Regions from separate parts of the Homo sapiens genome. Here region 1 is linked to region 2. Evidence: fine-mapped expression QTL. A gene starts in region 2. The other region holds a variant in brackets. All regions are shown on one strand. Distances are from middle to middle. Region 1 overlaps ADAM32 (ADAM metallopeptidase domain 32). Region 2 holds the start of ADAM9 (ADAM metallopeptidase domain 9).

Region 1 (5,385 bases), 240 kb after region 2:
ATCTTTGGATATATGAAATAAATAAATAAATATTTAGAAATTAAAATAAAATCTTATTTAATTCCTGACCAGATCTTTGCTCATAGGGAAATATAAAAAGTGTAAAGTGTAGGCTTTAAAGATAGATGTTCATAGATTTGAATTCTGACTCTGCCACTTACTTGATAGATGATCTTTAAGAAATAATTTAATATTATTAAGCCTTGGTATCCTTAGATATGAAATGTATATTTCAATAGCCACTTTTAGTGGTTTTATAGTATAAATAAAGCTTACTGTAGGTAAAGTATATAGACTCATTAATATTGATTTATTTTTATGCATTCGAGTCATAAGTGCCATCTTGATGGAGGTTTGGGCCAGGGAGCTCAGTGGATATATTTAGGTCATGGAGCAGAAAAGAAAAAGCCTAAAAAATGCAACACAACCAATAAAGTCTTTGAGATGATTTGATAAGTAATTTAATAAGAATATAATCTTTTTAATAACCCAGACAATTCTTCTCAGAAATAATGTGTAAAAACAAATTTTACTGGGTAGTTTTTAATGATAGTATAAATTATATATGATGAAACATTCTTAGTATTGTTTCTGTAAGTTAGTGTCCTTATTCAGTGGGGAATCTATCTCAATTTCAACTGAGCCAGGCAGACAGTAGATACTATATTCCAAAAAGACTTGTTAGACACATCATCATGGTCAAGGACCAGCGAGAAGACTCAACATATTAAAAGTTTAAAAGGGTTAGATTGTTTGTATTTAGAAGAGGTTTATGATGCCATTTATCTGAAGAAGGTTATGCTGTGCTTTAATGTTTAACAGGAAATGATTTTCACATATGTCATCTCATTTTAAACTAAAAACAAGCTCTAATGTTACTTGCTTTTTCTAAAATAACATTTTTTAAAAAAGTATTATTGTACTCGTGTAAAAACTGCAACTTAAGGAAATTGAGATTGCCATAAATAATGGAGTTGGGAATATATCTTCAGCCCTCTGATTATTATACTTTAAAGTTAGAAGAATTATGTCAGAATTTTTTATACGTTCCATAATATAATGATAGACAACTCTGGTACATTTTAACAAAAATTTCTATTATCTTCATTAAATACTTATGAGACTCTAATGATAGTTCATATTTTATGAAAACAATATATGCCATTATTATATGGAGTTAATTTTTTACTATGTAAAACTTTTGTATGTGCAATTAATACAAGATATTCTTTGAACTGTGTACTCAGGGATAGTCTTGTTAGATTTCATGGTGTTATAATGAAAAGTGGTTCTTTGATAATAATTATTTATTTAATAGCCAATCTTATTTTATTGATATCCTCCACTTTTCTGCCCTGAATCATTAAAAAAATTATTTTAAAAAATATACTTTACATTTTAGTGCCATTTTAGGTTCACAGCAAAAATTGAGTGAAAAATACAAAAAAGTATTCATATACTCTTTATCCCCTACTCCCCCACAAAACCTGTACCACTGTGCATAACCTACATCAGCGTGGTACATTTGTAATAATTGATGAGCTTATATTGACACATCATTATCACCCAAAATTCATAGTTTACATTATGGTTACCTGGAAAATCCCCATACTCTTTGAGGCTAAATAACACATGGGTCAAAGAAAAATTCTCAAGAAAAAAATTAAAATATTTTGAACTAAGTGAAAATGAAAATATAACTTATCAAAACTTGTGGAGGACACAGGGAGAAAAATGGCAGATAGGAGGCAGGACTTACTTGCAGCTCCCACTTGGATGGACAGCGTGTGGAGACTCACATTATGAACTTTTGCTGCAAGAACCACTGCAGGAACATAACAGGAAAACTTAAAGAATTCACAGACCCTTCAAAAGAAGCAGCTTGCCACTACAAACTTCGTGAAACACCCATAAAACTGTAAATGCCCAATATGTGAGTGGGGGAAAGTCTGGCTCTGGACACACATCCTTACTGGAGAACCTGAAAATCCAGATCACAGGAGAATAATTTAACCTTACCTAGAGCTGAAATGAATTTAGAGAGCCGAGCAAACCATAAAAGTAGAAGAAGCAGCGGGAAGAGCCTTGTAGGCACTCCCAGTTCTCAGGGAAGCCCTGGGAAGCGATTTCTGATTTAATCTGACAGCAGTGCCTGGGGAGGACAGCCAGTGGAATTGGGGAAGGGCCACAAGGATAAGGAGACTTCCAGCTCAACCTTGTAAAAATTTTGACTTAGTGTGAATTTTCCTGGGCAGATGTGGTGGGGTGAACAAGAAGTGCAAATATGAGCACAGAAGCCATGGCAGGCAGGTAGAAGCAAGGCCTGAGAGCTCTGCTTGCTTTCTCAGTGGGGAGGCTTGTAGCCTGGAGCAAGATCTCAGCCCTGTGCACCAGAGGCCTGGATATACACTGGGCTGTGTTGGCTGCTTGGGGAGCATGGTGGGAGTGACACTGGCCTTACTGGCTGCATAGGAGCTGGGTGAGACCTGTCACTGCCGGCTTTCCCCCACTTCCCTGGTGACCTGTATGAAGCAGCAGAGGCAGCCATGATCCCCCTTGGAAGGTAACTCCATTGACCTGAGAACCACCTCCCCCAATCCACCACAACGGCCATAGCAAGCCCTACCCAAGGAGAGTTTGAGCTCAGACATGCCCAACTCTGCCCTCATCTGATGGTCTTTCTCTACCTGCCCTGGTAGCTGAAGACAAAAATGACAGTAACTCATGGGAGCTCTAGGGCCCACCCATCACCTGAAAAACTTGAATACTTACCTGGGTGACCTTAGGGCAAGCTTGTATTCCCCCTATACTACTACAGCTGATGCTCTCTTGAAAGTGCTGTCTCTTGGCTGGAGGCCAGCCAACTCAAGCCATTACAGCAGTTCATAACAGAACAACCCTGCTCCAAGGAAGGAAAAAACAACAGCTAATTCCACTGCCTACAACATTCTGGCTAACCAGAGGTCCTGAGTCTGTCCACATAACAACTTCATTGCTAGCATAACCAGTCTTGAAGGAAACCAGTGCACTAAACAAGACTATAACCAAGGACTCTCACAGAATCTACTTCACTCCCCTGCTACTTCCACCAGAGCAGGTGCTAGTATCAATGGCTGAGAGACCTAAAGATGGACCACATCACAGGATTCTTTGCAAACATTCCCAAGTACCAACTGAAAGTCCAGTAGCTCCACTGCGTGGCTAGACCCAGAA[GA/G]GCAGTAATGATCACTGTGGTCTGGCTCTCAGGAAGCCCTATCCCTAAGGGAAGGGATAGAGCACAACATCAAGGGATTACCCTGTGGGACAAAAGAGTCTGAACAGCAGCACTTGATTCCCAGATCTTTCCTCTAACATAGTCTACCCAAATGAGAAGGAACCAGAAAAACAATTCTGGTAATATGACAAAAACATGGTTCTATAACACTCCCAAAAGATCACACTAGCTTACCAGCAGTGGATCCAAACGAAGGAGAAATTTCTGAACTGTCAGTAAAAGAATTCAGAAATTTGATTATTAAGCTACTCAAGGAGGCACCAGAGAAAGGTGAAAAACTACCTAAAGAAATTTTTTAAAGTACAGAATATGGACAAAAAATCTCCAGAGAAATAGAGATCAGAAATAAAAGAAATCATAACTTATGGAAATAAAAGACTTAGAGAAATGCAAAATACACTGGAAAGTTTCAACAATAGAATTGAACAAGTAGAAGAATTTAAGAGCTTTAACACAAGGCTTTGGAATGAACCCAATCTGACACAGACAAAAAAAATAAAAAATAAAACAATGAACAAAGCCTCCATGAAGTTTGGGATTATGTTAAATAACCAAACTAAGAATAATTTGTATTCCTGAGGAAGAATAGAAATCCTAAAGTTTGGAAAACTTATTTGAGGGAATAATCAAGGAGAACTTCCCTGGCCTTGCTAGAGATCTCGACTTCCAAATACAAGAACCTCGAAGAATACCTGGAAAATTTATCACAAGAAGATCATCATCTAGGCACATGGTCATCAGGTTATTTAAAGTAAAGATGAAGGAAAGAAGCTTAAGAGCTGGGGGCAAAAGCACCAGGTAATGTATAAAGGAAAACCTATCAGATTAACAGCAGATTTCTCAGCAGAAACTCTACGAGCTAGAAGGGATGGGGATCCTATCTTTAGTCTCTTTAAACAAAACAATTATCAGCTAGGAATTTTGTGTGCAGTGAAACTAAGCTTCATAAATGAGGGAAAGATAAAGTCTTTTTCAGACTAACAAAAGCTGAGAAAATTTGCTACTACCAAACCAGCACTACAAAAACTGCTAAAAAGAGTTCTAAATCTTGAAACAAAACCTTGAAATACACCAAAATAGAACCTCTTTAAAGCATAAATTTCACAGGGTCTCTAAAAACAACAACACAATGAAAAAATAATCAAGATATTCAGGAAACAACCAGCATGATAAATAGAATAGTACCTCACATCTCAATACTAACATTGAAAATAAATGGCCTAAATTCTTCACTTAAAAGATTCAGAATGGCAGAATGTATAATAATTCACCAAACAGGTATCTGCTGTCTTTAAAAGACTCACCTAACACATAAGGATTCACATAAACTTAAGGTAAAGGGGTGGAAAAAGATATTACATGCAAATGGACATGTAAAGTGAGCAGGAGTAGCTATTCTTATATTAGACAAAACAGATTTTAAAGCAAAAACACTTAAAAAAGACAAAGAGGGGCATTATATAATGATAAAGGGACTAGTCCAATAGGAAAAAAATCACAATTGTAAATACATATACACCTAACACTAGAGCTCCCAAATTTATAAAACAATTCTTGATAGACGTAAGAAATGAGATAGATGGCAACACAATAATAGTGGGGATTTCAATACTTCGTGACAGCACCGGACAGGTCATCAAGACAGAAGGTCAACAAAGAAACACAGTACTTAAATTATACCCTAGAACAAATAGACTTAACAGGTATTTACAGAACATTCTGCCCCAAAATGCAGAATATGTATTTCTATTCATCAGCACATGGAACATATTCCAAGACTGATCATATGATAGACCACAAAATAAGCCTCAATAAACTTAAGAAAATTGAAATCATGTCAAGTACTCTCTCAGACCACAGCGGAATAAAATTGGAAATAACTCCAAAAGAAACCCTCAAAACCATCCAAATACATGGAAATTAAGTAGTCTGCTCCTGAATGATCTTTTAGTAAACAGTGAAATCAATAGAAACTAAAAACTTCTTTGAACTGAATGATAATAGTGACACAACCCATCCAATCCTCTGAGATACAGCAAAAGCCGTGCTAAAAGGAAAGTTTATAGCATTAAATGCCTACATCGAAAAGTCTGAAAGAGAAAAAATAGACA
Region 2 (5,385 bases):
ACTTGCATTATGTGGCATAATAGGATGGCGAGTCCATGGTGGGGAGGAGATACATGAACTTCATTGGTTATTTTGAGAGATTGATTAGGAACTGTACACTCAGCTTTAGGGATATTACTAATAAACCTTAATAGCGTTTTTCCATTCCAAGAAGCCACTGTTAACCAATGGCTTCCGCTGGAACGCTTTAATGTCCTACAAAGACATATACCGGTAGACTCTATCTGTCTCCTACGGACATGGTGGAACCTGTTTGCCTGGAGAAAAGAAATGTCATTGGCAAGAAAAGCTCTGCCCCAAATGCATGTGTAACAAAGATACTGCCCAATCCATCACCAGTGTTGCAAAGTGCACAGACTTCCTTTTGCTCTTTCAGGAAAGGTTCATGCCTTGAAGGAGAGTCAGGGGTGACATTTTAGTTTCAAAATCTGTCAGTGGCCAAAGGAACCAAAGACAGGTTGGTCTTTGCACCTGGGTGGTTTTAGCACAGAGATTGCTCCTTCATAAGGAAACCAAATATCTTGTTCAGTCACTGACCCTGGCCATACTGGAAATTTCCAGTAACGGTCTTTCTGAGGAAATTCTTCAAAAAACTTTGTACCTCTTATACTTTTATGTAATAGCATTCAGACATTCCTATTTCGTTATCGAAGGGTTTGCTCTTACGACAAAACAAAAACTCACCTTGAGACAACCATAACCAAGTTCCTGGGATGCAGTTGCATTTCCAACATGATCCACTGGGTCTTCACATTCTATAAATTCATCAGGTCTGTAATTCACCAGTAAGATCATGATCATCATCATACGGTCTTTGCAAATCGCTGTTTGCATGCACGTAATCAAAACGGGCAAAAGACATTTCTTCATCAAGTTTTCTGGGGTTCGGTTTCACCCTGCTGACCCCTTTCCAAGCCAATTAAACTGAAGCACAGCAGGTCAAACGGACAGCCACCAAAATGAACCTTTTGTTGGAGAAGGGAGGTGTTTCTGGTCCTGTTTCTATAAGGATTCTACTTCTGCCATGGTTTCATCTCTTCAGTAGGCAAACAACAAGATTCTGGGGGCAAAATTTAAGCCAAAGTATTCTCAGTCCTCTTTGCATTTCCCAAATGCCTTTTCTTGTTTGATCAAAAAGAGATGTTAAAAAATGGCGTGATTCTGCAACGGTAAGAATATTGATTGCTTTTTTAAAAGATGCCTTGTAGGCAGAGACAAGTCATTTACTCCATTTATGCCTTACTCAGTACTGGCACCGAATCGACCGACTAATACTCTCCTTGGGCTAAAGGGCGCAGGGCAAAGAAAGCACAACCTTACGCCCTTCTTCCAGAGGCTATATGATGTTACTCCTACCCAGTTTTCCTCTTTGGGGATCTCAAAGCCTCTGTCACTGACACACAAGAGTTTTCTCTGCACGGGCTGTGAGAAACCTGGTTCATGATATTTGCCTCCGGAACGACCTCAGAGAGGCAGGGTCTGAAAAAATGCAGCGTCCCCCCAACCCTGCCTTCCCTTAACACCCATATATTCCTGGCACACCCTCCACGTCCACCCGCCTCGACCACTGGTAGCTTACAGGTAAGAGCAGAGGATGACCGGAGAGTGGGGGTCGCCATATTCCCAGCTCGCAGCACCCCCGGGGCCCTCCGGCTGGGCGGCGCCAGCGGATGTGAGCTCAGGCTCAGCGGTCGCATTTTGCGAGTGGCTCCGAGACACACAATGCAGCAGAAGTAAATTCCCCAGCAGCAAAGCCGCCTGGCCGCACAGAAGTAAGTAACTAACCGGGCAACCACCTAGCACCATCTTCCCGGGCACAGGAGCGGAGACCCGGCCTCAACCACAACCCCAGGCCAGCAGCACAGACCCAAGAACTGCGTGGTCAGGCCTTTCCGCGTAGCCCCGCCCGCGTAGCCCCGCCAAACAGCCAATGGACGCGCAGCTCGACGCTCCGCGCACCTCCGCCAACCAACTAGAAAAGGTCGAGCAGACGGGCGGGGCTACTCCGCCCTCTGCTTCTGCTTCTCGATTCCTCTTCTGGGTCTCATGCTCCTCCTTCTTTTGCGCCGAATGCGTTCTCCAATCGGATCCGTCGACCCCCCTAGGTGGGCGTGCCCGGCAGCCGACGGGGCGGGGCGGATATGACTGGCGGGCCGACTAGTGCTGGTTGCCACCGCCGGTTTAGAAATCCTATTCTCGCGCCGGGGACTGGATTTTTCCCTACGTCAGCGCAGCTAGGCGATGTCGGGAGCGAGCTCGGACCGAGGGCTCAGTTGCGTCAGTGCCGCGCGCGTGCTCGTCGGGCGCGCGTGCTCGTCGGGCGCGCGCGCTTCCCGGCCAGACTTGGGGCCCCGGCAGGGTTGGAAAATGATGGAAGAGGCGGAGGTGGAGGCGACCGAGTGCTGAGAGGAACCTGCGGAATCGGCCGAGATGGGGTCTGGCGCGCGCTTTCCCTCGGGGACCCTTCGTGTCCGGTGGTTGCTGTTGCTTGGCCTGGTGGGCCCAGTCCTCGGTGCGGCGCGGCCAGGTGGGTGTCCGCGCCCCGGGTCGGTTGGGACGGCTGCTTCCTAGGGACGGGGCGCTCGGAGTGAACCTGTGGTGCCTGGGAGTGGAGGGGCCCGGCCTGGGGATCGGACCCGGGGTCGGGGGGCGCGGCCGCTCCAGGTGTGTGCGGACCGGGGTCGCACCCGAGGCGCGGGGTTTGGCGCCCCAAGCCCTTCTTGGCCCGGGTCCTCTGCCCGGCACCGCTTCCTCCGTGTCCTGTTCGATGGAGCCGTTCCCAGCGTCCCCCCATCCCTCGCCGCCTCGCGCGACCCCGGGTCCCCCAGACGCCCCGAAACCCGCTCTGGGGCGGGCGCTGACCTCGGCGGGCCGGAGCCCTGCAGGCTGGGCGCGCCCGCGGGCGTTCAGTCCTCCAAACGCCTGCAGGGAGGGAGCTGGCTCTCGCTCGTGGAGTTAATGTCGCTTGGAAAGAGACTGAGAGATGAAACTTTTGCTGCAGGTTATAATTTGAAATTTTGACGTTCATGGTATCCTTGGGTCAACACAGCTAAATTTAATGGTGGAATAAAGGTGGGTGGGAGGACGCTCATTTCTCTTGGGTCATTTTTGTAGTAAGAATATTTTGTAAACGATGTGCTACCTTTCTATAGCCAAACCATTCTTAAAAAATCTGTGTTTTTATTGGGTTCGTACTGTGTTAAATCCGGACAGATAATCCCTGCTCTTTTGAACTCACAGGATTATTGTAGGAATTAAATCATTTGTGTGAAATCGTTTTTGAATTGTGAAACTGCCCTTGACTATGTAAGATACTTGTATTGGAGATGCCCAAACATAGTGGAAGCAGATTGTCAGCACGCTGGCGTCTTTCTGGAAACAAGTTGTTTATTTTGGATTTTGTATGATATAATTGTTTGCATGGCTGTATTTTCTCTATCAGCGACAGAGGATGATGGAGAATGGGAGTTTTTACTAAATCATTGATTGAAAGTTATTCAAAGGTGATGATAGAAGATTTCAACGCAGGACTGTTGACCTTCAGGAAACTAATTACTTGTTTTTCTTATCTTTGGCTGCTTTATTTGAAATTAAGTAAATTTGCCCCAGTGTGGAAATGTTGAAACTCTGACAATGTTTTGAATGGGAAGTTGCCAAATTTCTTCTGGTTAAAACTACTTTTCCGGTGGTATTCTAGATGGTTAACACTCACCGATGTTTAAGGTGAAGACGATTATACATCCGGAGTTTTATTAATCTGTGATTTTTTTTTGTGTTTGTAAATGTAAATAAGACTGTATTTTTAAATGTTAATATAAATTGTCAGTCATTACCGACCTGCATTAGGTGAGTGGAATATCCTGATGGTCTTTAACTGTGGTTTTGGCCAGCTCCTCACTTCGGCATGTGTATGCCCCTTCAAAGTTTAGCCACCGTTTATGGAACTCCTATAAACACCACACAGTTGATTGTAGAGGGGCAGAAGGTGACCAAATATGCTAAGCGCATCTGAGAGATGTTGGGGAAGATTTTTAGAGAAAATAATATTTGAACTGGGCTACATCGGTGATTTTTCAAGTAGAATAGTAGATACATTCTAAGCAGAGGAAAGTTTTTGCAAGAGTATGGTGGGGCGGGGGGCGTATGAAAGAACATGACTTTTTAGGAAATGATAAAAATGTCAATATGTCTTCATGCAGACTATAAAAGGGAGGGATGGAAGATCAAACTAAGGTAGGTTGTTACCAGTTGGGAAGAGTCTTCTATGCTGAACTAAGGGGTTTGGACTTCACCCCGTAGGAAGTTCTTTGGGCAGTGGAGGTTTTAAGTAGGGGTGCGACCTAATCTCATTTTCTGTTAAGAAAACGGGCAACACGGTGGAGGATAGAATCTAGGAGGGAGAGACTAGAGGCTGGGACACCGGTTAAGAGGCTTTTGTAATAGTGTGCAGTGAGTCAACTCTTGTTTCTCTCGGGGAACGTTCATACAAAATCAGCTGACCACATTTTTGCAGTATAAGGTGTTTAAAACGTGCACTGAAACATTTTCCAGGATCGAAAGAGGAATTTGAGGTACCAGGCACACGTCAGTTACATTAGGAGTTAATTAGGTTTTATAGGATTTTTACTACCTTTTATAACATTGTCTCAATGAGGAAATGCAGTATAATTTCCAAACAGCTAACTTTCAGTAAACTTTTTTTTTTTTTTTAAACTGACAAAGGTAACTGTGTCATTGTAAAAAATAAGCGGAATCAGGTATGAAACCTCTTCTGATTTTCTAAGGTAGTAATTATGAGGAACAGATTTAGAATTTTTTTTTAAACAAAGACTGGCATTCTAAAGAAAATGACTTTGAAAGCTTACTCATGGTGAGTCACTGTAAAATCATTTGTGTAGTAAGAACTTAGGTCCATACTAATCTCGTTTTCAGATGCCAGCAAAATATTTGAATTTGATATGTTTGTGTTTGTGCCGATAGGAGAATGTAGCCTTTTACATTTAAGAATGATTTGGTTTTCAACCTTTTAAGTAAAAAAGAAAGCATATATAATTAAAATATGTACAAACCTAGTTCCTGGTTTCCAAGACAGTTTTCAAAAAGCACTTGAAGCTTTAACTTACCAAATTTATATTTGCTCTTTGTAAAAAATCTGGGTTTATAATAGAATTTATTATGGAATCCCCCAAAAGATGCAAGCTCTAAGTAACTGGAAGCTTTTTCTTGGGAATATCCGCAAGCTCAAACATATGACATAGCCTCATATTTCTTTTTCCTTTTTGGTATGTAACATATACTGGAGGCTTGGAGTCATGCCATCCTTTTGAGTCAGCGCTATGGAACTGCCTCATAAATGAATGCAGTCCTTTTGTATCTCAGTAGCTA

Evidence for each region. PIP is the estimated chance that this variant, and not a neighbour inherited with it, causes the effect. A credible set is the group of variants that fine-mapping cannot tell apart.
Region 1: its variant is the best candidate, but not a certain one, in a credible set for the expression of ADAM9 in whole blood (INTERVAL, PIP 0.52).

What each region holds. Positions count from the first base shown.
Region 1 is chr8:39,235,108-39,240,492 of GRCh38, forward strand. The region is part of intron 16 of ADAM32 (ADAM metallopeptidase domain 32); the gene reads left to right. Among named protein-coding and RNA genes, the nearest start is that of ADAM32, 130 kb to the left of the region's middle. The variant GA/G (reference allele first, on the strand shown) is at 3,214.
Region 2 is chr8:38,994,634-39,000,018 of GRCh38, forward strand. It overlaps ADAM9 (ADAM metallopeptidase domain 9), which reads left to right and starts at 2,340. Exons shown (of 22, transcript NM_003816.3): 1 at 2,340-2,527. The coding sequence starts at 2,431. It overlaps TM2D2 (TM2 domain containing 2), which reads right to left and starts at 1,876. Exons shown (of 4, transcript NM_078473.3): 1 at 1,580-1,876; 2 at 685-772. The coding sequence starts at 1,806. RefSeq lists enhancers at 1,004-1,526, 1,527-2,048, 1,657-1,846, 2,007-2,106, 2,167-2,216 and 1 more and a silencer at 2,547-2,976.